Homo sapiens: one gene and its partners. The protein of the gene in region 4 interacts with the protein of the main gene of each other region in a biochemical or structural test. Each region holds a gene or a part of one and is shown on either strand. Other genes may lie near its edges. The genes, in order: MCMBP, ATRIP, DAPK1 and MCM3.

Evidence for each region.
Region 1: the proteins of MCM3 (region 4) and MCMBP form a complex in vitro, tested with the Homo sapiens proteins (one study listed by BioGRID).
Region 2: the proteins of MCM3 (region 4) and ATRIP form a complex in vitro, tested with the Homo sapiens proteins (one study listed by BioGRID).
Region 3: of the proteins of MCM3 (region 4) and DAPK1, one has a biochemical effect on the other in vitro, tested with the Homo sapiens proteins (one study listed by IntAct).

What each region holds. Positions count from the first base shown.
Region 1 is NC_000010.11:119,828,923-119,834,856, forward strand, and holds the end of MCMBP (mini-chromosome maintenance complex-binding protein), read right to left. Parts: intron 3,179-5,934; coding exon 3,090-3,178; intron 2,679-3,089; coding exon 2,552-2,678; 3' UTR 518-2,551; downstream 1-517. UniProt on the Homo sapiens protein: Associated component of the MCM complex that acts as a regulator of DNA replication.
Region 2 is NC_000003.12:48,449,733-48,456,762, reverse strand, and holds part of ATRIP (ATR-interacting protein), read right to left. Parts: intron 6,727-7,030; coding exon 6,593-6,726; intron 6,271-6,592; exon of another isoform or gene 6,188-6,270; intron 5,035-6,187; coding exon 4,864-5,034; intron 2,464-4,863; coding exon 2,345-2,463; intron 1-2,344. UniProt on the Homo sapiens protein: Required for checkpoint signaling after DNA damage. Required for ATR expression, possibly by stabilizing the protein.
Region 3 is NC_000009.12:87,696,837-87,703,866, reverse strand, and holds part of DAPK1 (death-associated protein kinase 1), read right to left. Parts: intron 6,861-7,030; coding exon 6,663-6,860; intron 5,212-6,662; coding exon 5,073-5,211; intron 3,751-5,072; coding exon 3,630-3,750; intron 839-3,629; coding exon 650-838; intron 1-649. UniProt on the Homo sapiens protein: Calcium/calmodulin-dependent serine/threonine kinase involved in multiple cellular signaling pathways that trigger cell survival, apoptosis, and autophagy.
Region 4 is NC_000006.12:52,274,728-52,281,757, forward strand, and holds part of MCM3 (DNA replication licensing factor MCM3), read right to left. Parts: intron 6,948-7,030; exon of another isoform or gene 6,826-6,947; coding exon of another isoform or gene 6,814-6,825; intron 4,873-6,813; coding exon 4,634-4,872; intron 4,124-4,633; coding exon 4,015-4,123; intron 2,962-4,014; coding exon 2,808-2,961; intron 2,472-2,807; coding exon 2,340-2,471; intron 1,750-2,339; coding exon 1,541-1,749; intron 1-1,540. UniProt on the Homo sapiens protein: Acts as a component of the MCM2-7 complex (MCM complex) which is the replicative helicase essential for 'once per cell cycle' DNA replication initiation and elongation in eukaryotic cells.

The DNA of each region.
Region 1 (5,934 bases), on a different chromosome or scaffold from region 4:
CCCTGTAATCCCCACAGTAAGAAAGTTGTATGGCATATTCCAACAAGTATTGGTTCGTCTGGTGTCTTTAGAGCTTTACTCTGTTGAAGTGACTGATTCTCAACTGAACATTATGTCGTTACTTTGATAAGCATTCCACTTTTGTTATTTATTAGTGCTATCTTTTTTTTTTACGTGTTAAATCTTGTGATTATTAAAATAAAGTACCATTGTAATTTAAAGTGACAAATGGGTATGAGAATTCCTTGCATAACAGATTAAAGAATTTGTAAACGGCAGATTTGCTATAACTGAACACTTGGTCTAGCTGTTGCCAGTATGTTACTCCTTTGAAATATACTCATGATGTAAAAAGGGAAATGGATCAGAAACTATACTTTAAATCCAAACATTCAAAACTGAATGCTTGCTTCTACCAACTTTTCTTCCGGGTCCTGAAAATATTAAGGGTTCCCAACATGGGAGAAAATACAACCCAACATTAGGTGATAAAATACACGTTTAAACTCTACAGAAATTAGTTCGAAAGAGATCTTTGAAAAATCATTTTAAGAAGGCAAAGTTCCAAACAGGGTTACACAGGAGTCTACTCAGTTTCCTGGCCATACAGGATTAACGCTGTGCCTTACGTTAGAGCAACAAACTTGACTGTCCGTGTATATATAGGTGAGGGACAAAGGGTTTCTGCAGCCAAGCACTGCACTCCATTCCGCTGCCTGGGCGGGCCTTGAGCAGGAAGGTCCCTCTTGCACCACCTCCTCCACTTCAGTTCAGCTCTCTCATGTCTTCCACCAAGAGGACATGGTCTTTTTCCACACAGATCACATGGGATGGTGAATCTTCTTACTCATGAAAAACAGCCCAAGGTACTGCTAATTTGGGACGTTTTATTTATTGGAAAGGTTCTTTCAAGGGAACTTTTCTGCAAGACCAAGCAATGTATGTATTTTTCTTTGGTAAATTACAATTTACATTGGCACAAAAAACACATGGTGACTAATGTACTTTGCTCTAGGACAATTAAAGAAAATGTATTTTATCCTCACAAATCCAGTGAAGCCTTCATTTTATTTCTAAAAGTTTAAGGAAGGTCTAGTCTACCAGTTATAAAAATGAAAACCAGTTCAACTCTAATATAAACATTATTTACATTTGTTTATAAAAATAGATTTGAGTTTAGGAAAAGTTGAACAACTAGTTATTTTTACTTCAGTTATTAGGTACAATGAATTCCTTGATTTTTCAAGGCTGACCCTGTTTCCTTGGTTAACAATTTCAATTTAGGCCTTATAGGAAAAAACGTAAGGGATCCTTTATCTGCCTCCAACTAGGTAAGTTATTTGATACCACTGACAGCTTAAAAAGTAATGTCCTAACCTTTCTGAAGATTCTGGTTGCCATAACCATGCTACTACAGTCTGTTGTTAGTTTGCTCTATTAAAACTAATTGGTCTGGAGAAAACCTACCTGCAGTTGTACGAGGCTGTTACTGGAGTAGCAGATGTTAGCTGATCTAACATACTTGGAACCAACTGATGATCCCATAAAAAATGCCAAAAATCCAATAGAATCAAAGCAACTCAATGACATTTAAGAAAATAAAAACTTTCTAAAGGGGGTATTGCTTTTTAAGTTTCCTATTTTGTTTTCATATTTGGGCACAGCTTTGTAGCACAGCATTCCCTTATGCATGGTTCTCAAATGCACTGGGATAGGAGAAAATAAAGACAATGTAGTGTCTTGGTTTCTTTTGCCCCCAAAAGCCACATTCATTCCGTTTAAAGGACTCCTCTTATTCAGAGATAGATTGTCCTTTCCTTTTATGAAAAAAATGGTGATAATACAGTGATTTATTCGGATTACTTGGCAAGGTAAATTGGCAACCTTATAGTACCCCAGATTTTTGGAAATATTACTACCGGTCCATAAAATACAAAAGTCTGGGAACCACTGCCATGTACAAGTTTAGTTTTGCAGGCTGTTAACAAATGTTAAGTGGGAAAAAGTTTCTGTGGCCAAACATCTGGGAAATGACAGTACAGAATTTCATGTAGTCATGTGAATCAATGGCAAGTACGCCTCCGTTCCCCAAAGATGGACTACTGAATGCACCCCAACCCACTGTGAACTGGAAAAACAGAGAACTAGAAAACATAAGAAATCCGAAGCACGATTCCTCTGACTTTGAAACTGCAACAACCTTCTTCATTTCAGCATTTCAACAGTCTGGCCTATGACTCAGCTGAAGCTAAGGAAATGGTACAATCAGCAACATTATCAATATTAAACTTTTAATATCAAATACTTTTTTTACATCATTACTAATTTATATAATTATTATAAAACAAACTTCAAAAGCTCCATGAAATCAGTAAGGTAAAAGTCCTTACTGAATATCATATAAACATCAGGTGTTACCAGGCTTGATTTCAGGAAATGTCACTGGTTTGTGATAGAAATTACCTATAAAACAATGTGGTATAAATGAATATCTGAATTTTACAATTATGTGGCTACAGTTTGCCCATTACTCTTCATAGGTATTACATCTTTAAAGTTCATTTCCATTCACACATTTTTGCTGCTGAAGCCTCGTTCTTCTTAAAGACTCTAGCTGCTTTGCTCTCAGCCATCGTTCTCTTGACAGCGTTGTCTGACCAGCACTGAGAGACAGACACCTGGTTTGAAACACAGAAACAAATTTAAGTCTAGAGCTGGGATAGTAAGTTTTAAATTTTTTTTAAGACCTAGGAATACTTTGTGAAAACACAGAGCACGTTAGGAGACAAGACCGTATGGTAGTTACACACAAGTCAACAGCCAAGTTAGGCTTCTAAAAAGAAATCGTTGAAGAGTCAGAATTGGAAAGTGGCTCACTCTTTGAAGCTTAGAGAACAAGCAGCATGCCTGTTCCACTGAAGAGATCACCAGCCAAACTCGATTCCCCCTCAATGAGCCCTTTCATACAGCGTTTTTAAAAGGAAAAGTTCATTTCCGTTTTTAGAATTCTGCCTCAGTTACTGCTGAATAACTCAGAAGACATATACACAAGCTTACCGAAACAGCAATAATGGACGTGCGCCACTTACCGAGCCACCACGAGCAGCTGGTGAAGATCATCAGCAGTGATGCTCTGAGGGTCGTTCTTCCGCATTTCCACAAAGTCATCTTCAACTGCCTTTATCAAAAGAGTAAATGTAAATGATGTGCATTTTTGTAAGGAAAAGAAAATTAACATGGTTCCTTGACTGATGTAGTAAGGTGCATGTCAGCCTCTTAGACAAAGGAGGCAATATGGGTGAAAGTACCAAAGCATATACATACATAATGCTGCTGATGAAAATAAAATAATGAAACTCAGATTCATTTAAGGTCAAGCAAACATATAAATCAGCAACTGGCATAGGAAACAATGCTTTTCCACAAAGGAAGAGTGATGTTAGTGAAAATGGCAGAGAAGGGACCGCAGAAAACTGTCTCTACTGTTAACACTGATCAAAATCAGCTTTTTAAAAACTAGAAATAAAACCATACTTGCAGCAATCCAGAGAGCATTTATGCAAGAAAACCAGGTGATTATTGGTAAGAATGTTGAGCCTGGCAGCATTTTAACATGTCCTACTCCTAAATTCCAACCCCTTCCCCTCCAGGCGATAATTAGTAGCTTCAAAAATCAACAGCCTGGCAGCCACCGGAGAGAGAACAGGGCTAGGGCTCCTTCCAAGTGCCATTCCCGGAGAACTGTCATCTGACCACCTGTCTGGTGGCTCCCTGGAAGGACCCATTTGCAAGGTTGTCTTTATTTAACCTGACTGGAAGCCTGTCTACTATGAACCACCTCTTTCCCCAGGGCATTTATCAAAAACAATCGGAAGAAATTACCAATCACCTTAGCTACCTGAGACACTGGGTAACAGCTGCGGCAGACAGACTAACCCAAACCCTTCAATGGAAAAGCTAGCTGGGAAATGACATGTCTGTAGAGGGCTCTGAAAACCTTAAGTATGTAACTCCTAGGAACTCAGAAGGCTGCAGACATGCTCAGAGACCATAGCTCCCACCTCTGCATGACCTGGAGGCTCTGTGCGAGCAGGAAATGAAGGCTAAGGCTTGTAAATTGCATGGCTAAGTGTTGAACTGAGGGCTTGCCCCAACTTTTATTTTTATTTATGATTATTATTCACCCGTAGACTGGGAGACTACTACCCAGCATTTAAGGAAATTTCTTTCCAATCATTAACCACAAAACTAACAGAGCAGAGACTTCAGTGCCCACATGTGACAAAGATACAGACTTTATAGAATTAGTCAAAAAAGTTACTAAACAACCTACCAACAGTAACAAACAGCAACAACAATAAACCCTAGGGAGGTTTAATTTCCAGAGTAACTTCCAAAGCAGAGTTGCCATATTATATAATTTAAAATGTCTGGTTGTGGCTAGATGTGGTGGCTTACACCTGTAATCCCAACACATTGGGAGGCCAAGGTGGGAGGACTACTTGAAGCCAGGAGTTGACCAGCCTAGGCAATAAAGCAAGACCTCATCACTACAAAAAAAAAAAGAAAGAAAAAAAAAGAAAAGAAAAAACAAAAAAACAAAACTTTAGTTGGGCATGGTGGTGCACACCTATGGTCCCAGCTACTGAGGCAAGAGGATCACTTGAGCCCAGCAGTTTAAGGCTGCAGTGAGCTGTGGCTGTGCTACTTACTATTCCAGCCTGGGTGATACAGTGAGACCCCACTGACCAAATAAAATGTCTGGTTTTCAACAAAAAAGTACAAAGAAACCAGAAGGTATGGCTCACACTTTGGGGATAAGGGAGTCAGTAGAAAACTGTCCCAGAGGAAACTCAAACATTAGACAAAAAGACTCTAAATTGGCTATTTTAAACATTCAAAGAAATAAAGGAAACCACATAAAAAGAACTTCAGGAAAATATGAGAATCACCAAATAGAGAGTATCAATAAAAAGAGAGAAATAATTTTTTAGAAGAAGGAAATAAAAATTCTGGAGTTGAAAAATATAGTAAAAATTCTCTAGAGGTGCTCAGATTTGATCAGGCAGAAGAAAATCACTAAATTTGAAGATAAGTTCACTGAGATTAGTCTAAGAAACAGAACAAAAAAAGAAGAATGAGGGAAAATGAACAGAGCCTTGAAGACCTGTGGGATACCATTAAATGCAACATCAGATACACAGTGGTAGTGTCAGAAGGAGAGCAGAGAGAAATGAGGCAGAAAGAAACATGGCCAAAACCTTCCCAAACTTGTTGAAAACTTCCCCAAAATATGAATTATTCTGCACCTCCAAGAAGCTCAACAAACTCCATGTAGGATAAACTCAGAGATCCACACATAGACACATCATAATCGAAACTGTCAAAAGCCACAAAATCTTGAAAGCAGTGACAGAAAAATGACTCAGTGTGTACAAAGGATCCTTATCAGAAACTAGTTGGCTTCTCAGTAGAAACCAGAGGCCAGAAAGTGGTGGGAGGACATATTCGAAATGATGAGACAAAGACTATAAACCAAGAATTCTACATCCAGCAAAACTAGCCTTAAGGAGAAATTAAGACATTCCCAGATAAACAAAAACTTAAAAGAGGGCTGGGCGAGGTAGCTCACACCTCTAATTCCAGAATTTCGGGAGGCTAAGGAGAGAGGATCACTTGAACCCAGGAGTTCGAGACTAGCCTGGGCAACATAAAGAGATCCCCTATCTGCACACACACAAACACACACACACACCCAAACAAAACAAAAAAACCCAAAAAACAAAGAATTAGCTGGGCACAGTGGCACATGCCTGTGGTCCCAACTACTCAGGAGGCTGAAGTGGGAGGATCGCTTGAACCTGGGGGGGTTGAGGCTGCAGTGAGCCATGATCACAACACTGCACTCTAGCCTGGATGACACAGCGAGACCCT
Region 2 (7,030 bases), on a different chromosome or scaffold from region 4:
TGTTCCATTGCCCAGGCTGGAGTACAGTAGCATGATCATAGCTCACTGCAGCCTTGACCTCCTGGGCTCAAGCAATCCACCCATCTGTAATCCCAGCCTCCTGAGTAGCTGGGATTACAGGCACACATCAACATGGCCAGCTAATTTTTTTTTTTTTTTTTTGGTGAGACAGGGTCTCACTCTGTTGCCCATGCTGGAGCCCAGTGGCACAATTACGGCTCACTGCAGCCTCCACCTCTTGGGCTTAGTGATCTTCCCACCTCATCCTTCTGAGTAGCACAGGGACTACAGATGTGCAACCACCACATCTGGCTAACTTTTTATTCTTTCTAGAGATAGAGTTATTTCTAGAGATAGAGTTTCACCATGTTGCCTAGGCTAGTCCTGAACTCGTGGGCTCAAATGATCTGCCCACCTCAGCTTCCCAAAATGCTGGGATTACAGGCGTGAGCCACTGGGGCCAGTAATTTTATTTTTTTTTTAAGTAGCAATGGGGTTTTGCTATGTTGCCCAGGCTGGTCTCGAACTGCTAGCCTTAAGCAATCTTCCTGCCTTAGCCTCCTGTGTAGCTGGGATTGCCTCTGTAGCTACCATGCCTGGTGCAAAACATCTTTTCAATGTGGAACAAACTATTTTTTTTTCTGGAATGGAGTCTTGTTCTGTTGCCCAGGCTGGAGTGCAGTGGTGTGATCCTGGCTCACTGCAACCTCTGCCTCCAGGTTTGAGTGATTCTCCTGCCTCAGCCTCCCAAATAGCTGGGATTACAGGCGCATGCCACCATGCCCAGCTAATTTTTATATTTTCAGTAGAGACAGGGTTTCATCATGTTGGCCAGGTTGGTCTTGAACTACTGACCTCAAGTGATCTGCCCGCCTCATCCTCCCAAAGTGTTGGGATTACAGGTGTGAGCCACTGCACCCAGCCAATGTGGAACAAACGATTTTTTAATAGTCACAAGACTTCCAGGCTGGGCACAGTGGCTCACCCTTGTAATCCCAACAATTTGGGAGGCTGAGGTGGGTGGATCACCTGAAGTCAGGAGTTCGAGAGCAGCTTGGCCAACATGGTGAAATCCCATCTCTACTTAAAAAAAAAATACAAAAAAACTAGCCTGGTGTGGTGGTATGTGCCTGTAATCCCAGCTACTTGGGAGGCTGAGACAGGAGAATCACTTGAACCCGGGAGGTGGAGGTTGCAGTGAGCTGAGATCATGTGACTACACTCCAGCCTGGACAACAGAGTGAGACTCTGTCTCAAAAAAAAAAGACTTCCAATAGAATGCAAAGACTTTAAATAGAAAAAGGGCTATCAAAATAAATATCATAATTTTGATAAACCTACTAGGTATGTTGAAAACTGAGCAACTTAGTGCCAATGTCTTTATGGTAGAGAAGCAGTATTAACTCTCTGATCTGATCATATAATGCTGAGGTCTTTCTGTTACTGATGTGTGAAGAGGATCCCCTCAGTTCTCTTGTCTTATGTGGACAATGCAAGGCATGGAGAGTTCAGTTTCACACACTGCCCATTATGAACAAAGGCGGTAGAAAGTTCAAAACCAGAAGATGCCCTGACTGACACTGTTCAAATTTCCAGGCTGCGCCAGGCACAGTGGCTCATGCTTGTAATCCCAGTAGTTTGGGAGGCCCAGGCTGGCAAATCATTTGAGTCCAGGAGTTTGAGACGAGCCTGGCCAACATGGTGAAACTCCGTCTCTACTAAAAATACAAAAATTAGCTGGGCGTGGTGGTGTGTGCCTGTAGTCCCAGCTACTCAGGAGGCTGAAGGAGGAGAATTGCTTGAACCCAGGAGGCGGAGGTTGCAGTGAGCCGAGATTGTACCACTGTACTCCAGCCTGGGTGACAGAGCGAGACTCTGTCTCAAAAAAAAAAGAAAAAAAAAACAAGTTGAGCACATCTGACCACAAAGGATGGGGCTGTTGGACAAGGGTCCCCAGAAAGCAAATGAGAAAAAAATATTCCAAGTAGCTGGAACTAAAATACACCCATGCTTGCAACAAAATCAGTTAAACAAATTACATAAAAGTAGAGACTAGCCCACCCCCAAAATTTGGAGATCATTTTTCCAGGTCTTTCTAGTCCTGAAGAATTATGTTTATAAAGTGCCATACAGAGGCAGCATTTCTAGAGTATAGGCCTTTATGCTGTGATGTCTCAAACCATGCAAGCTTCATCTAAACCACCTCTGAATCCTTCAGGAAAAGAGGATCTCTGCCCAGGTGGAGGGGTCTAAATGGCCTTCATTTAGGACCAGCCTGACACTGTTATGCAGATTTTTTACTAAATAATGCAAAACTGAACTATCCCTCCAGCACCATCATTACCTGACATGGGAAACAGAGGGAGCAGCCAGTTTATTTGCTCGTTCACTGGTCTGGAGCTTTGTCCTTAATTCATTCATCTCTGCATCTTTAAACTGGAGTTCAGACTGCAATGATTGGAGCTGGAAGGCAAAAGAAACATGCTTGTAGTGGTCCCATCATATACACAAAAATATCTCTGGGCTTCAAAATCACAAGCCAGTAAAAGACAAACAATGAAAAATACATATGAAAGTCTGCTGTGACATAAATGTCCTAAAATATTAAACATTAGCTTTCTTTCTGAAAGACAATATGGTACTCTAAAAAGATACTGGACTCTATTGTAAGGGTAGTTTGTGAGGGTTTAAATACCAGCCCTGGCCGGGTGTGGTGGTTCAGGCCTGTAATCCTAAGCACTTTGGGAGGTTGAGGCGGGAGGATCATTTGAGCCCAGGAGTTCGAGACCAGCCTGGGCAAAATAGCAAGATCTTGCCTCTACAAAAAATTTAAAAAATAAAAAAAAGAATTAAATACCAGCCCACCATTTATTTAATGTCTTTGAATCCTAACTTATTTGTAACATAAAACACCTGTCTTCATGATAGTTGGGAGGATTAAGTAGAATGATGAGTGTAAAATACCCAGCATAGAGCTTGGTAAGGTGCCCTATGTCAGCAGTAACATATTGACCTTTATTAACGAACGCACTGGTGCACAATTCCAGGTCTTCCTCAAAGTTTGGGCAGAGTAGTTGGAATAGTTTACCAAGACACTGTGCAGTATAGAGAGACCTGCTGCTCTGGCCTGCAGTTGCTACAGCCAACAGTAACTGCCATCATTCCCCAAGCACACTCTGCGCCAGGCCCAGCACCAGACACAGTAAGTGCAAGAATGTGTGAGTCTCCCAACAACCTTTCTGGTTATGTCTTGGAACAGATAAGGGAAATGAGCCAGGGAGCTTAAGTTATTACCTTGAGGTCACTGCTTATGTGTGATGAAGCCTGGATTCAAATTCAGGTTTGTCTGACCGCAAATTCCTTGCTCTTCATCACTTATACAGAAAGTTAACTATTGCGGTTAATGATGGGCACAGGTAAGTGCTTAAAGTTTGCTAAGTTTGCTGAATGAAACAATGAGAATAAGATCCCATGTCCTTGAGATTGAAGCATGAGGAGGTGCTGAGGGAAAGTTGTAGTAGGTACTGGATACCTACTGTTTTTCCTTCCAGAATAGCATTTTCCTTTCCCTGAGAAACAGGCTGGGCATTGTGGCTCACGCCTGTAATCTCAGCACTTTGGAAGGCCAAGGTGGGAGGACTGCATGAGCCCAGGAGCTTGAGAACGGCTTGGAGAATACAGCAAAACCCTGTCTGTACCAAAATTTAAAAATTAGCTTTGCCTGGTGGTGTGTGCCTATAGTTCCAGCTACCTGGGAGGCTGAGATGGGAGGATTGCTTGAGCCTGGGAGGTCAAGGCTGCAGTGAGCTGTGATTGCACCACTGCACTCCAGCCTGGGCAAGAGAGTGAAACCCTGGACCCTGTCTCAAAAAAAAAAAAAAAAAAAAAAAAATTCAATAATTTCCCTACCTCTGACTATTTTATTAGAATGGGAGCTGTCATTTTTTTGCTTTTGGTTGCTTTTGGTTATAGCAATTGGCCAGGGACAGACAACTGACTCAAGTTAAACCAATCAGAGCCTTTCTCAGAATTTTAAAACTTGAGATGAGGGAGCCTAAGTCTTTTTTTGAAACAGGGTCTCGCTCTATTGCCCAGGCTGGAGTACAATGGCATGATCATGGCTTACTGCAGCCTCAACCTCCTGGGCTCAAGCAATTCTCCCACCTCAGCCTCCTGAGTAGCTGGGACTACAGGTGCACACCACCATGCCTGGATAATTTTGTTCATTTTTTCTTTTTCTTTTTTGTGGAGATGAGGTCTCACTAGTTGCCCAGGCTGGTCTCGAACTCCTGGCTCAAGTAATCCTCTCACCTCAGCCTCCCAAAGTGCTGGATTATAGGTGTGAGCCACTGCATGTGGCCCTAAGTCTTAATTCTGCTCTGTATTTATAAAATATGAGCCCAGGAGCTTCTGGAGAACACACCCTCTACCATAAGTATAGAGCCTGTTTATAGCATAGAGAATAAAAATGTCCTGGCAAGATTTAAGTCATTTAAGGTCCCAGCATACCCCGGTTCTTCCCAGACTTGGATATGGAAGCCAATACGTTTCCTTTTAGCCTAAGCCAGGTCAGTTGAGTTTCTGATCTAGCAAAAGAGCCTTAATGTAAACCTGTTTCTAGAAATGCTAAGCTAGTTATTTACTCCTGCCAAGACCAACTACCACAGCAAAATAGAGTTTCATCTAAATCCCTTTCCAAAATATATCCAGACCCTGGAAGAAGAGTGGATGGCAATGAGATGATAGCAGAAAGTATTTAAGACAAACAAGTGTTGAAATCTCCCTGGAAGATTTACAGGCAACCCTGGTCAAAGGAACTCAGTGGGCAGGCAAAGCTGGTGCAAAACAAATGCTCTGGGTCACCTTTTTGGAGAATTCCTTTTCCTTGTCACTGAGTGCTTGGGTTTTCTCTTGCTCAAGAAGAAAATGTGATCTTCTCTGTTCCTCTAGAACGGATTCCGTCTGATGTAGTGAGTCTCGCAAAATTTTAATTTCTCCATTCTTAATGAGAACTTCTTCTTCCATTACTTTCATCTGTAAATCCCAAATTAATCTCGTGAAAACTTTGTAAGAGAAAACTACTTAGGTACTTTGTTTTAACATGTAGTTGGGGAGATGGAGAAAGCACAGGAAAAACAGACAAATGAGTACTCAAAATATATCCACAGCAACCAGATGTCACCATGGTCTGCTAGGCCTGTTCATGGGACAGCTGATATTCATCAAGATAGCTTAAGCATACACTTGCCACTCATGCATGCAGATTCTTTTTGCCAGGGAGGGGGATGGGGTTGCTTAGGCTGGAATGCTGTGGCACAATCATAGCTCAATGTAACCTTGAACTCCTGGGCTCAAGTGATCCTCTCGCCTCAACCTCTTGAGTAGCTAGGACTACAAAGCATGTGCCACTAGCCTGGCCAATTTTCACTTTTATCTGTAGAGACAGGGTCTCATTGTATTGCCCAGGCTGGTCTTGAACTCTTGGGTTCAAGCGATTCTCTCACCTTGGCCTCCCAAAGTGCTGGGATTACAGGCATGAGCCACCTTGCCTGACCAGATTCCTTTTTTTTTTTGAGACGGAGTCTTGCTATTGTCGCCTAGGCTGGAGTGCAATGGCACGATCTCGGCTCACTGCAACCTTCACCTCCCAGGTTCCAGCAATTCTCCTGCCTCAGCCTCCCGAGTAGCTGAGATTACAGGTGCCCGCCACCATGCCTAGCTAATTTTTGTATTTTTAGTAGAGACGGGTTTTCACCATGTTGGCCAGGCTGGTCTTGAACTCCTGACCTCAGGTGATCCACTGGCCTCGGCCTACCAAAGTGCTGGGATTACAGGTGTGAGCCACCGCGCCTGGCCGGATTCTTTAGGCTCTAAGAGGCATTAACGATCTGGGTCGCTGGGTGTGGTAGCTCATGCCTGTAATCCCAACACTTTGGGAGGCTGAGGCCAGGAGTTTGAGACCAGCCTGGCCAACATGGTGAAACTCCGTCTCTACTAAAAATACAAGAATTAGCTGGGCGTCGTGGTGCACACCTGTAGTCCCAGCTACTCTGGAAGCTAAGGCATGTGAATCGCTTAAAACCAGGAGGCAGAGGTTGAAGTGAGCCAAGATTGTGTCACTGTACTCCAGCCTGGATGACAGACTCCATCTCCAAAAAAAAAAAAAAAAAAAATCTGGGTCACATACCTTGCACAACTAAAATTCCACATATTCCTGGTTTTCTTAGGGACCTACAGATGGTGATATGAAGTGTCTGCTTTCTTGCAAAGCTGCTAATGAAAATAGCAACCATTATGAAGTTGTATTATTCACATGAAGATACATGCTATAAATTCATCTTAGTACCCTAACAGTTTGTATCTCTTTTTGGATCTGGTATACAGTGTTTTTCTTCTTGCCTTTGGCATTAGGAATCTCACAATTTAGTTTCTTTCAGCCTAAACTTTCTGGTTTTCTTTCCCTAGTCTTTTCCCATGTCATAGGGATGAATCTAGACACTTGTTTTACAACTTTTGTATATTTTACTGTACAATGCTTTTAAACACGTAAGTGAATGAATTAGCTACAAAAACCACAAGTTAAGTCACTTACCTTTTCTTTAAGTTCTTTGTATTGTGCCTGAAGTACCTCTAATTCGAAATTATCTTTAATTGGAACAGTTTCTCTGTTTTTCCCTGAAGGATTTTTTGACATGCCATCTAATAATCTGTGGACCTTATGATCACCTGTAAAAAATAGTTCCATATACATTTCAGGACCCAATATTTTCCCACTTTTGCCAGAAAATGCTGAAAATACCCACTTTTTTTTTTTTTTTCTTTTTTGAGATAGGGTCTTGCTCTGTTACCCAGGTTGGAGTGCAGTGGTGTGATCACTGCTTACTGCCACCTTGACCTCCTGGGTTCAAGTGATCCTCCTGCCTTAGCCTCCTGTGTAGCTGGGACTACAGGTGTGTGCCACCATGCCTGGCTTTTTTTTTTTTTTTTTTTTTGGATTTTAGTAGAGATGGCGTTTCACCATGTTAGCCAG
Region 3 (7,030 bases), on a different chromosome or scaffold from region 4:
GTTCCTGGGACAGGCATATGATGCCATTAGAACAGGGTTTCCAAACCGCGCCCTGGTGCTCAATGTCACAGAACCAGAGCAAAGCCTCCCATTCTCAATCATTTCTGCTGGGCATTGCTTGCTAGAGTTTTTTAATGTGCATCTTTAATTATGATTACTCTGTGTATCTGTGCACCAGAGTTCTCTGTCTTTGTATCTCCAGACATTGCCTCCACAAGGACACCTCACTGCCTTTTCTCAACTGTTTTCCCACCCAGGAGATCTGTGTGGAGCTGATGACTCCACGCTGATACAAAGAAGCCATCCTGAAGGCTGCCAGGAGTAGCAGATTAAGTTCCTGGTGCCCAGGGGGAGTGAAGAGAGACCCAGTCACCCAGGGCAGTGGGCACTGCACTCCCAAACTAACAGACTCTGGAAATAAAAGCAAAACACGACAAGACAAAATGACAGCTCCTAAGGTGAGCCGAGAACTGCAGTTCAGAGCGTCACTTGAGGCTGTGTTTGTCACACGTGTGGAAATGTTGTAGGTTAGCTGGACCATTTCCACACTGCTTCCCCAGGCTCACACCACTTCCAAGAGCTGGAATTTGGGACAGGCTGAGTCCCTGGCACCTCTCACGGCCCCCTGCCTGGGCTCCCAGGGGCTCACCTCGCCTGTGCTGTGGAGCTGCTGAGCAATGCGCCTGAGGTCCTCCTCGCTGGCCAGGGGGTTCAGCTGGTCCTGCACGTCGTACACAAACTGCTGCAGCGACATCAGCTGGTTGGGTCCATTGAGCTTCCTCCAGGAAGGCAGCGTGGAGATGATTTTCTCACACAGGTGAGTCATGGGAGGACAGACCTAGAGGGGGCAGGGCCAGACAGGTTAACTCACCTGCAGCTGTGGGTGCCCTGAGCAGAGCCACAGTGGAAAGGACACCTTTCATTCAGGCGCCTTGCAGGTGATTTGATGAACGAGTGGGTTTTTTTGTTGTTGTTGACGTTTTTTTTTCTTTTTTTAGACTGGGTCTCGCTATTGCCCAGGCTGGTCTCAAACCCTTGGGCTCAAGTAATCCTCTTGTCTCAGTCTCCTGAGTAGCTCCGACTACAAGTACACACCACTGTGTCTGGCTAGTTTGTGTTTTTTGGGTTGAGTACTGGGGCAGTTGTCTTTTAGACTTGCTTTTAAGCCTCATCTATTGCTCAAATATAAAGTTTTATAAAGGCTCTTTAGTTCATGTTAAATAGATTTTGAGTCTTCTAGGAACGTTTTTGGAATTGTGGACTCAGTCACTCAATCAACTAATGTTCACCAACTCCTAATGTTTCACTCCCTCACTTTTTCCTCCCTCCCTCCTTTCTTCCCTCGCTCTCTCTCTCGTGACTGTTTCACTCAGGCAATGATCACTTTATGAACAGAGGAAAAGAGAATGAGTATCATCATCAATATTAGAGTGAGTGTTTACCAGTAAATTAGGCATTCGTGGGGACTGTTGTTGAAATATTGTTTCCAATTAGACCCATTCTTGGTATGTAGGCTGAAGTGGATTTTTAACCTTTTAACTTGGTTAATTAGATCAGCATATGTTACAGACTCACGTAATCCACATACCTCTGAATTAGAAACCACATAAGCCACAGGCTACACCGTGCCATTAATTCCGCACTCCCCTCTCAAATTCTTTTGTGTCAGCTAAATTCCACTCTGCATTCAAAAACAAAATTCTCAGGGGTGAGTGCAGTTGATGTGGTGGGCTCCACCTGCCTGAGCTCAGGAGTTTAGGGGTTGGGCGGGGGGTGTCTGAGAAGCAGCAGATCATGCCAGAGCCCAGCTCAAAAATCTCCAGGGACACTCCCTCCTGCCTCAGGAATGCAGCCTCAATCCAGACCTGGTGGGGAAGCACAGGGGCCCTCAGAGACCACTGTTAGTTCCCAGATCACCGCCCCTGGTTTCTGTGACAGATTCCTCCCAGGCCTCACCGGACTACCCCCTATCTTCTGATGATGCCACAGTGGGACCCCAACGAGGATATCTGGTGTGAAGGGCAGGGTTTTCTGGAGACAGGAAAGGGTTTCCCGAGAATTCTGGAAGCACATCTAGAACCAGAATCTGGTGCGGGAAGCACAGCATTTTCTTATTAGCAAAGCAGTTAAAAAAAAAAAAAAAAAATACACCCAGAGGCAGCTTCAAAGGTAAGAGAGGGAGACAGGCATCTGCCCGCATTTGTCCTCAGGCCTCGGCAGCAGGAAGACTCCAGAGTGAATGCCACCACTTCTCCACTGGGACGCTCGCCCTTTTCTTACCAATTCCGGAGAGCTTTTTGAACATTACGGTGTGACCATTTATCTGTCCAAAGCATTGAGAATGCTTTTTCCCAGCCTATTTCACCTTTCAACTTTGTTTACTTAATTTGTTTGCTAGAAAAAAATTTTAAAAATTTTTACATTTTCAAACAGGTATATTTTCTTTTAAAATTTCTAGGGTTTTAGATCTTGGTTTAACAGGTTCCCTCAGTCCCTAGTTATTTTGAAAATACACTCTCCACAATTTCTATTCAAGGTATTTATTGTTTCATGTTTTTACTTAAAAGCTTTAATCCATTTATTTTTGGACTTTGTAGGGTGTAGGAATCCAACTTTATTTCCTTCCAGACAAATAGCCAGTTGTGCCAGGTTCATTTATTAAATAATCTTTACCCCATTAAATTCAAATGACATATTTATTTTCCATTATATTTCTAAAGATATTATGATTTACTTCTATACCCTCTAAGCTTTTCCTCCTATTTAACTGTATTGATTATCAGGGGCTTTATAATAGGTTTAATGAATTTTTCCATGGAAATTTTAAGATAAAAATCCCAATCCCCTCAACCCATTCAGATGCTAACTGAAATTGTATTACATTTATATAACTAGGGAAAAATAAAATAGTCATATCTTGCAACCCAAGAATACAGTCTCATTCCCTTTGTTCATTTATTCTTTTCTGTCTTTCAAAAAAGTTTGTGACTGTTTTTCTACTTTTCTGAATTTTCTAAATATTCCACAATAAGTCACTTTTGAATTTTTTGGTTTTTTCCCAAAATTGGCCAGGCATGGTGGCTCACACCTGTAATCTCAGCACTTTGGGAGGCTGAGGTGGGAGGAGCACCTGAGCCTAGGAGTTCGAGACCAGCCTGGGCAACATAGTAAGACCCTGTCTCTACCAAAAAATCAAAAAAATTAGCCAGACATGGTGGTGCGTGCCTATAGTCCTAGCTACTTGGGAGGCTGAGATGGACAGATTGCTTGAGCCCTGGAGTTCAAGGTTACGGTGAGCTATGATCACACCACTGTACTCCAGCCTGGATGACAGTGTGAGATCCTGTCTCTGAAAAAATAAAATAAATAAATAAAATATTGTTAAAGAAACCAATAAATCGGTAAGAATTTCATAAAATTGAAGTGGTCCACCTTGCCCATAATAACCCTTCAGCTCCCATCATCTCCTTGTTTCTCTATTCTTCCTTTCTTTTCCCAGGGCACTAGGATAAAGACATGTCCAGGCAGACACCTCTTACTGGGTCCTACTATGAAGCAGTTCCCTGAAACCAGAGGCAAACCAGGAAGGAAGTACAAAGGGGTCCAGGCTCTTTCCATGGTGTACTTACCGAAACAATCTGGCTTCGTATTTCTTGCAGATGATTTCGAAGTACCTTCATGTCCTTTGACCCAGAAGCCCCAGCATCCAGAACAAACAGCTTATTTGAAATGTGAAGATCATTTCCAAACCTAAGGGAAGAGCAGCAGCCTCCTCAGCAGTGAGTCAATGTCCCCAGGCCTTTTAATGGAGGGGCCAGGCTCCTACTGGCTCAAGAGGCTGGTAGGAGGGAAGGAAAGTTCTGGTGTCCTTGCAAAGGCCCCTCCCCATCCCTGCTGTTGGTGGGCTCTGCCTCATCACAGTGGGTGCAGAGACTTGGGGAAACTGGCATATAGTCTGAGTCATAGGAGCGGGACCTTCAGGTTTGCATGAAGCAGCAGGAGCACAGCATGGAAAGATGTCAGCTTCTCCCGAGGCAGGAAAGGTGAGGCCTAATGCTCGCACCTTACAAGTGAGGACAAGAGATACTGTGGAAAGTGGAGGGACTAAGAATAGAGGTGTGAATGCAAAAGCTACATCACTGACCTAAAAATATTAATAGAAGCCCCATTTTTATATCTGGCAACAGATATAGTGTCTCAAGACAATAGATAAATGTCTCAAGTTGATAATGCAAGATCAGAGATACTAGCATATTATAGAAAGCTGCAGGTTCAAACTGTTTTGATAGACTCTGAGTAAAAACATATATTTTACATCATAATCCTGTACATACCCATACTCATCAGTGAAACAAACGTTTTACAAAATAATACTTGACATCTGATCTATCCTATCCTGTCCTGTCCTTTCCTGTCCTATCCTATCCCATTCCATTCCATCCCATTTTAAAAAGAATTGGCCACGACTTCCTAAATGAATTTTAAGACTCACTAGTAGGTTGCAACTTATATTGTAAGACATACTGATTAGTGTTTCTGAACACTGAATACTGAGTACTGAAATCTAAACAGCTAAAAGAAGTCACCTCCGGGCAGTGTTGCTGGGAGGTAGAAAGAAGGGGGTTGCTTTCATCACGTGCTCTTCATTTGTATTTGATTTACTATGTGGATTCATTGTTTTAATAAAAATGAAAAATAAAGGTTGTGCATCCCTAATCCAGAAATCTGAAATGTTCCAAAATCCAAAAACCTTTTGGGCAAAGACAAGACATGCAAAGGAAATGGTTATTAGAGCATTTCAGATTTAGAATTTTTGAACTAGGATGTTCAACTGCTATGTATATGTACATATATTAAAATCCAAACAAATAAGAAATCAGAAACACTTCTAAAGCCGATCATTTCCAATAAGGGATACAAGACCTGTACAAGAAAAGAGTTGACCAAGAAAGAAAGACCTTTAAAACCTTTCTCTGGTTCATGAGACTTCCTTTGTACTTTTCACACCTCTGCTTCAGTTCTCAGGGAGAGGAGGCTACCCGTGAGCTGGAGACTAAGTGGCTGCCCCTCACCTGTTCCTAATCTCTTTCAGCAACGATGTGTCTTTGTCATATCCAAACTCGCCTCCAGCCGGTCGAGGAACATTCATGATGTCAGCGTGGGTGGCCACCAGGACAACTTGGAGTGGGTTCTTCAGCTTGCCACCGAAGGCTGGGGGCAGAGAGGGAACTGCTTCAGGGGGTGGGTCCTCCTACCTGGCTGCCTCTCCTGCCCAGGTGAGGGCGGTGTGTTGGCCTCATGCCCAGGCCGACTCTCCAGGTACAAGTGCAACATGCCACAGAGATGAAGGCCCCACGCCTGCTGTGCACTGTGACCCTAGAAGGCCCCAGCATGGCCAACGACAGGATAAGCCTATCTCCTAGGCCACAAGGAAAATTGCTCAAAGTGGACCAGAATGACTAAAGGCAGTTTCTCAAGTCTCCAAATAGCCCCTACTTACAAGGAGAGGGAAAATTTAACCTGTGACAAAAGGGATGCCGCTTACAAGACCAAAGAGAGACGCCTGAGTGCAGCAACACCACAGAGATGGGTCAGAGGTAAATGACCTGCAAGTCACACAAAGAGCCTCCCACTTCGGGGAGTGTTTAAAACAAAGGAAAAAAAGGACAAAGAAAGAGGCAAAACTGGCAGTACCCAGAGGGGCATTAAGCCCAACTCCTTGTATTATATGCTTTTCCGGAAAGAAAAAAAATTGACTGCTGAGTATTGCATTTCACCAGGGAAGGCTGCTTCTCTTGTTGTGGGCAAAGACCAAAGGAAGTTTATTTCATGTTATCCTCTCCTCTAGGAATAAAGTTAAGATAACACATTCAGTCAACATGCTCCCTTTCTTCATTTCTCTCTCTTTTTTTTTGAGACAGGGTCTCACTGTGTCACCCAGGCTAAGTGCAGTGGCACGATCTTGGCTCACTGCAGCCACAGCCTCCCAGGTTCAAGCAATCCTCCTGCCTCAGCCCCTGAAGTAGCTGGGACTACAGGCACATGCCACCACACCTGGCTAAGTTTTTGTATGTTTTGTAGAGATGAGGTTTTGCCATGTGGGCCAGGCTGGTCTTGAACTCCTGAGCTCAAGGCATCTGCCCACCTTGGCTTCCCACAGTGCTAGGATTACAGCCGTGAACCACTGCACCCGGCCTCTTTCTTTGTTTCTTAGTGGAATTACAGGATGAAGAACTGCTCATTCTGCTGACTAATTCTGTACCCTTTAGGTAAAGGTGCAGTAGCTATCCAAGCAGGGATTCCATTTTGCACCCAACATACAATGACCATGGCTCTCAAGTGTAGAAAAAAAGTGAGAAATGCCTCTCAAAGGATTGTTCAAAGTGGGCCTTTGAGGCAGGAATATGCAATCATGAAACAAAAACAGCCTGCAGAATACCACGAACACTTGAGCCTCATGAAGCTTCTCAGAGTGGAAGTCTCCCAGCAGGAAGGAGAAAGGAAGTTGGCTCAGCTGTTAGCCACAAACGGTGGGATCTGCTCATGGCCTGGTGCAAGGCCAGCAGCAGCAGTGGCAGGAGCAGGGCAGAAGCCTGGAAGGAGGAGGCGATTCCTGGCCAACCACAGGTAGGACATCACTGGCCTGCAGGGACTTAGCTCACCTATGGGTTCTTCAACTGGGACAAGGGACTTCAGGAAACTGAGCCAGAAAATCACTTGGTTCAGCTGGATCTCATAGGGCTCTTCTAGACTAAAGACAACAACATGGATTGACGTGGGATCATTTGCAGCAAAATAGTCATAACAGCAGAAATACACAGGATTTCCAGAGAACTCCCACACGCTGAAATCGCCAACTCCTACAGAAAAAGAAAAATGATAACAATCGTGAAACACCACTAACCAAATTTCAATCATAAATTCTCTTAGCGTTCCACGGATTCGAAGTAGGCATAGTGATACTTATGGCATTCTTCTGTATGTGTATACATCTTGTTATGACTTGGGTATGGTTTGTTCCCCACTAAAA
Region 4 (7,030 bases):
ATTCAAAAACCCCAATACTCTCCTTTCAATTCTGGGCCTACTGGACTGATACTTACCCATCCACATACACTTCACAGTCAGAGAACATAACAACCTTTAGGTAATAATGATTTTGACCATGTTCACGTTTCAGGTCCTGCCATTTTTCTTGTATTTCCCAATCACTCTTGAGAATGACATAAACATACATTATCATTTATTTTATTTTATTTTACTTTTAAAGATGAGGTCTCACTATATTGCCTAGGTTGGTCTCAAACTCCTAGGCTCAAGTGATCCTCCCACCTCAGCCTCCCAAAGTGCTAGGATTACAGGCATGAGACACTGCGCCCAGCCCTATCATTAATTTTAAAAGCTATGGTTTTCAACCTTGGCTACACATTAAAACCAAACCTGTGGAGCCCTTCTAAACCATAGCTACCAAGAGCTCCAACTCAAGAGATTTTAATTCAGAAACTCTGAACGGGGGACCATGCAACTGTATGTATAAAAAACACCATCGCATCGCAACAAGGTGTTCCCATACACTGTGGGATTGATTATAAACTGCCAGGACACAGCATGAGCTCTGGGCTCAAATCCTGGCTCTGCGATTTTCAAGTTTGTGGCTCTTGAGCAAGTTACATAATCTTTTGTACCTCCATTTTCTCATCTGTAAAATAAAGATAACTACACATTGTGAGGTAGTTACTGATAGGATAAAAGGAGTTGGTAAATACAAAGCATTTATGAGCATTCATTAATAGAAGTATTAATATGGTACAATCTTTAAAGAGGGTAATTTTGCAATCTCTACCAAAAGAAAAATGCACATAACTCTTAATCCAGTAATTTCCTTGCTAGGTATTTATACTACAGATATATTCCCAAATCTATCCACACACATAAAGGGATGGCCACTACAGCTTCATTCAAAATAGGGAGGAAAAAATGGAAACCACTAAATACCCATCAGATGGAGACTAGTTAAATACATCCCTGTGACGGAATACTAGAAATCTATTTTTTTAAAAGGAAAAACTCAACAAACCCCACGCACAGACAAATATAAAAGATTATATCTAGCACATCACAGTCATGGTAAAAACAGAGATAATTCTTAACAAGGAAATAGTGTATTTGCTGGTACATGCTTAAAGTTTTGTTTCCTGCAACACTTCAAAGCTGTTATTTCTTGGCAAAGTGACAGGAGAGAGAAGCAAGTCTTTTCGTTTTCATACTATATACCTGTTCTGTTTAGAAATTCTCCCGCCACATGCATGTAGTCCTTTTATTTAATGGACGGTTAAATATGTTAAATGGACTGTTTAACTGTACTGTTAAAAAGTTACTTTTAAATAAGGAACTTTCCAGGGGATTCTGCTGTGCAGGAATGGGTGAGGAACACTGCTCTAAACAAAGGACAATAACAAGAAAATGGCCTTACTTTTAGTCTTTGGCCTATTATTCCCCTGGGTCACCTAGAATACACTTCTCAGCCCAGTTAGTCAGCAAAACCAAATGAAGGTGAGGACAATGGTTGGGGCCTGATTCCACTTACCCTGCCGTAGACAGGGTTGGCAGCTGCCAAAACACTGCAGCGGGCATTCAGCCGAGCATGGATGCCAGCCTTGGCAATGGTCACTCGACCCTGCTCCATCACTTCATGGATGGCTGTGCGATCCATGTCAGACATTTTGTCAAATTCATCAATGCAAACCACGCCTCGGTCAGCCAGGACCATGGCCCCTGCTTCCAGACGGCGCTCTCCTGGGAAGTGAGAAGGTAAAAATACGTGCTACAGTCTAGGTTATAGGGGCCAGAAGGGAAGGATTTCAATCTCCTTCCTAGGAATCTCTCACTTTGCACGTGAGAATGCGGCAATGGTGTGTTGGCTCCGAGAAACTTAGAGGAAACCCTGGTGGGTCACCTTTTCAGCTCTAATCTAAATATTAATAGTATCTCTTTGTCCCACTTTGACCCCTAAGTAACTAGCTTCTCACAAATTTCCTTCATAGATTCTCTCTTCGGCCTCAACCTCAAGTAATACCCCAACTAGACCTCTGCCTTCTCTTCACTGGTCTCCAAATCCCTTCCTCTAGTTCATAAAATAGTACAATCTTCATTTTTATTTCCTTTCTAATGTGCTAAGACTTAATCCTTTAAATCGAAAACATTCCTGTAAATAGATGAACACCAAAGACTTAAATAATTCACCCACCATTGCTGAATACTCAGTCCTCTATAATCTGGACCCAACTAACCTATCAGCTGTATCTTCAGAACACAAGCCAGGGCACACAAAGGATCTATGCTCAGGCTCTCTGCTGGGCCTTTGCCAAGGACCCTTACACCCTTACCTGTTTCCTGGTCTGTGGTGACAGCAGCCGTCAGACCCACTCCAGAGGAGCCCCGGCCAGTGGTGGGGATAGCTCGGGGTGCAGTGCAAAGCACATACCGCAGAAGCTGAGACTTGGCAACGGATGGGTCTCCTGTAGGGTGGGGGCAGTGATGACTCTCTAGGAAACTCCCCAGCACCCCCAGCAAATTCTGCCTTTCTAGCACAGCTCTTGACACAACAGAGTCACACAGTAAGTGGATTTTAATATTTTTCCTTCGCTTTTCCCTTCACCACTCACGGAAGAATATTTATATACTATAAATCAGGAATTCCAGAGATGACAAAAAAAAAAAAGATTCATTTTAGCCTTTTGTCCTTTGATAGGACTGAAATACTGCTAAGTACAGAATATACAATCTTACATATTATAGGTCTCCACAACCACTCCATCAGAACAACAGTCTAAAGCAAATCCCCAACATCGTACCTATTAGAAGAATATTGATGTCCCCACGGATGTGGCTGCCATTTTCTAGGTCTCGTTCCACCCCTCCCAAGAGCAAGCAGAGGATTGCTTTCTTGACATAGTCATGCCCATGGATACTTGGGGCCAATGACTTGGCCAGCTGGTCAAAGATATCCTACAGGAGAAATAACCAATGGCAAGCCTAGTGAGATTCAATGGGACTTTGTGGAGCTCCACTTTATATACTTTGGCCTATAGAAAATACTTGAAGAGGGCCAGGCGCAGTGGCTCAGGTCTGTAATCCTAGCACTTTGGGAGGCCGAGGCAGGCAGATCACGAGGTCAGGAGTTCGAGACCAGCCTGGCCAACATGGTGAAACCCCATCTCTACTAAAAATACAAAAAATTAGCCAGGCGTGGTGGTGTGCGCCTGTAATCCCAGCTACTTGGGAGGCTGAGGCAGGAGAATCACTTAAACCCAAGAGGCGGAGGTTGCAGTGAGCAGAGATCGCACCATTGCACTCCAGCCTCGGTCACAGAGCAAGATTCCGTCTCACCAAAAAAAAAAAAAAAAAAAAAAAAAAAGAAAATACTTGAAGAAACACACAAACAGGTACATTGTTCCTAACTGCAAAAAATTATTTTCTAAGACAAATTACACTATCAGGCCATTATCAGAGTAGGCACAGAGCAGCCTGGATTCCAAAACTTGTTTAGAGGTTTAATCTTTAAGGGAAAAAAGTATCCCCAGGTTCAAAACATTTTAGGTTTAATAAGAACATGTACTGTGCTTGAACAGTAACCTTTATCATCACACATTCATATATGTAGTTCAATTCTAAATGTGGATATACATCCTATCTTAAAAAGATAAAAACAAGTTGGAGAACTAAAACAAAGAAAAAATGTTTAAGTAGTAATGCATCACTAACGCCTTCAGTAATAAATAGACTTACTGGTACACGGGCAAGTTAACACCTATCCTAATATTTGTACTAGGCTCATTTAGCAGCCCAGCAGGTAGCAGGTATTAAAATTGTTTAATAACAACAGAATTACTAAAGAACAAACAGCAAAAACACCCTTCATTTGTTGATTGAGACAAAAATAGAAAAAGCTAACACCAAACCTCAACCCTTCCTTCTGATCTAGTACAAAAATAGCCATGCACCAAAACACAACTCTTAGAAATCCATTCCCACCCTCAAATTTCTAAAGGATGCCCAGACCTTGGATCGGGTTTTACTGAACTTCTTGATCTTGGCTATATCCTCAGCAGAGAAAGAGGGCTGAGCATCCTTGCTCATCTGCTTAACATTACAGGCAATCAGGACAGTCCTGGGACAAACAGAATAAAGAGGAAACCCGTTATATTCAATTCCTAACATCAGTAGCTAGTACCCCTAGCAGGAGTAAGCCTTTTTAGGCTGCCAAACTAGACCAGCCAATTAGAGTTGGTGGGGAGGGGGCAGGTAGCTATTGTGAATTAAACAACTGGTTCTGTCTGTGATCCAAATATGCTGATCATGCCCCACCTCTGGAATTGACCCACAGAACTTCAGACAGAACTGTGTATGGGGACGAAGTGTAATTAAATGAGAAACTCCCAGGAAAGCCATGAGGCTGTAATCATTGTCACCAATAACTCTCATTTTTGGCATATGATGGTTAAGTATCACCAGCTTTATCTGATAGAAAAGAGGTATTGAAGGTATCCTGTCTCCCAGGCAGGTAGAGTGCTCCACCTATCAGATATAACTCTCTGGAATATGGCAAACTGGAGAAAGGATATTACCAGAAATGGAAGCTGTCAACAGCATTCCATATACTTTAAGGCAGACCCTTTACCTGAAGGTCCCAGAGGTGTAGCCTCCCTTCTTTCCAGGAAGGCAACGGTAGGTTCCCACCACCTGAACCCGGTCACCAGGCTTCGCTTTATCCACCAAGTCATCATCCAGAATGACGTCCACAGAGCGGGGGAGCTGGCCGGCTGGGGCCTTCTCCGGCATCTCCTGGATGGTGATGGTCTGGTGATCCTTGTAGACAGAAAGGCCATATTCTGTCTCAAGGGGATTGTTCTCCTCATCCTAGAAAAAGGCACACAGAGGGACAGAGTGATCTCCGTCCTGTCTTAAAAATGCCACACTCACCTGTCATGGCAAATAAGATGACTTCATAAAATTTTATTATTCAGTAACAAAAAAAGCCAAGTACCTTCTCTAGCTTTTTGTGTTCCTGTCTGTTTTAGTAACAACCATCGAATGGAAGGGGCAACCCATAGTCTGAATGGACTATGGTTATATTAACATCTAAATTAAGATTCTTACTTCCCCTCTAAAGCTGAATATATGCTTACATTCTGAAGCAGTTTTTCCACTCCTAGGTAATACCCAACAGAAACATTCACCCAAAGCCATGCATTGTAATGCTCATAGCAACATTATGCCTAGTAGTCAAAAATTTTAAAGTGTAAAAATGCCATCAATAGTGTAATGGTTAAACACGGTATATTCACATAAATGAATACTATACAGCAATAAAAATGTATGAAACACACCTATACACAACATGGATAAATCTCATAAACACAATGTTGAGCATAAAAAGCCCATAAGTATTTAAATAAAAAACAGCTGAAAGTAATCCATACTGTTAGACATCAGGATAGTGGTTACCCCTAGGTAACATGAGCCCTCAAGAGGGACTTCTGTGTGCTAATATTTCCTCATTTGGAGCTGGTTACACAGGTGTACTCAGCTTGTAAAAATTCATCAAGCTATACACTTATGTGAGCTTTCCTGTACGTATATTAAAGTTTTACTTCCTTCACATTTGAATTTTCTAAAAACACAGTTGTCACTTATTGAGTGTTTGCTATGTGCCAGGCACTGTGCTATTACTTCACAAAATTATCTCATGTAATTATCACAACAACTTTGTAAAGAAGGTATTTTCACACGTCATGCACAAGGAAACCAGGAGACTAGGAGAGATTAAGTAAGTTCCCCCAGGTCACACAGTTAAGTAGCAGAGTCTTGACTTGATACAGGTGTTAACTCCAAAGCCCACGCTCTTAAGCATCACCATAGACAACCTCCAGAAGATCTGGTCCAATGTATTTCACTTTTCAAGTAAAGAAGCTTGGCCACAGTAATCAACAGAAGAGTACTTCCCAAGTACTTCCTGAAGAGGAAATTCTAAAAAAGTGGAGATCTTAAGGTCCGAAGAAGACAACAGAATGACTTAGAAAATACAACTGGCATGAATTAAAGAGACACAGGTCCTAGTCCTTAAGGCCATCACTAACTGGGACCGTAAGCAAATTGTTTAACTTCTCTGATCTCAGCATTTCATCTGGAGGTAGACTAAATGATGCTAAAGTATGTTTAAGTTATAATTCTAAGATATTCATTCGTTTTTGTTTATGTTTCATTTCTCCACCACTGTGAAGACTAATGACGAGGACTGGGTCTTATTTATATCCTTGTCCTCCATAGCGCCTAATAGTGCTTTGAATACAGTAGTTCTCAATTAAAATTTGATGAGGGGAGGAGAGGAATTGTTTGATAGAATCAGTTCAGACATCAAGTAATCCATATAAATGATCTTTTGTCTCCAGAGGAAAACCTTGCATTGTCCTCAATCCAGATCAATCTGAACACCAAGAAGAAAGCATTTTCCTATGCCAACCTGCTCCCAAACCCGCAACAAAATATTTGTAAAGATTACATAACAGTCTAGCATTATTTTTCTACTTTTTAAAAAGCAGATTCTAAAATTATAACGTTGTTAAAACATCTATGTAGATGACTTCTTCTTTTGACTATTCCTTAATTTTCTAAAATGAACAAGTGTTTTCTTAAAAAAATAATAAGAGTTGTGGCTGGGCATGGTGGTTCATGTCTGTAATCTCAATACTTTGGAAGATGGAAGCAGGAGGATCACTTGAGGCCACGACTTCCAGTCCAGCCTGGGCAACATAGCGAGACCCTGTCTCTAGAAAAAAGTGAAAAAAAAAATTAGCGGACCTGGTGGTGCATGCCTATAATCCCAGGTACTCAGGAGGCTAAGGTGAGAAGATTCGTTGAGTCCAGGAGTTTCAGGCTGCAGTGTTCTATAATGGCACCACTGCACTCCAGCCTGAGAGAGACAGATCCCGTCTCTAAAAAAAAAAATAAGAATTGTGAAGCCAGGTGGCGTAGCACATGCCTGCAATCCCAACTACTTGGGAGGATCACTTGAGCC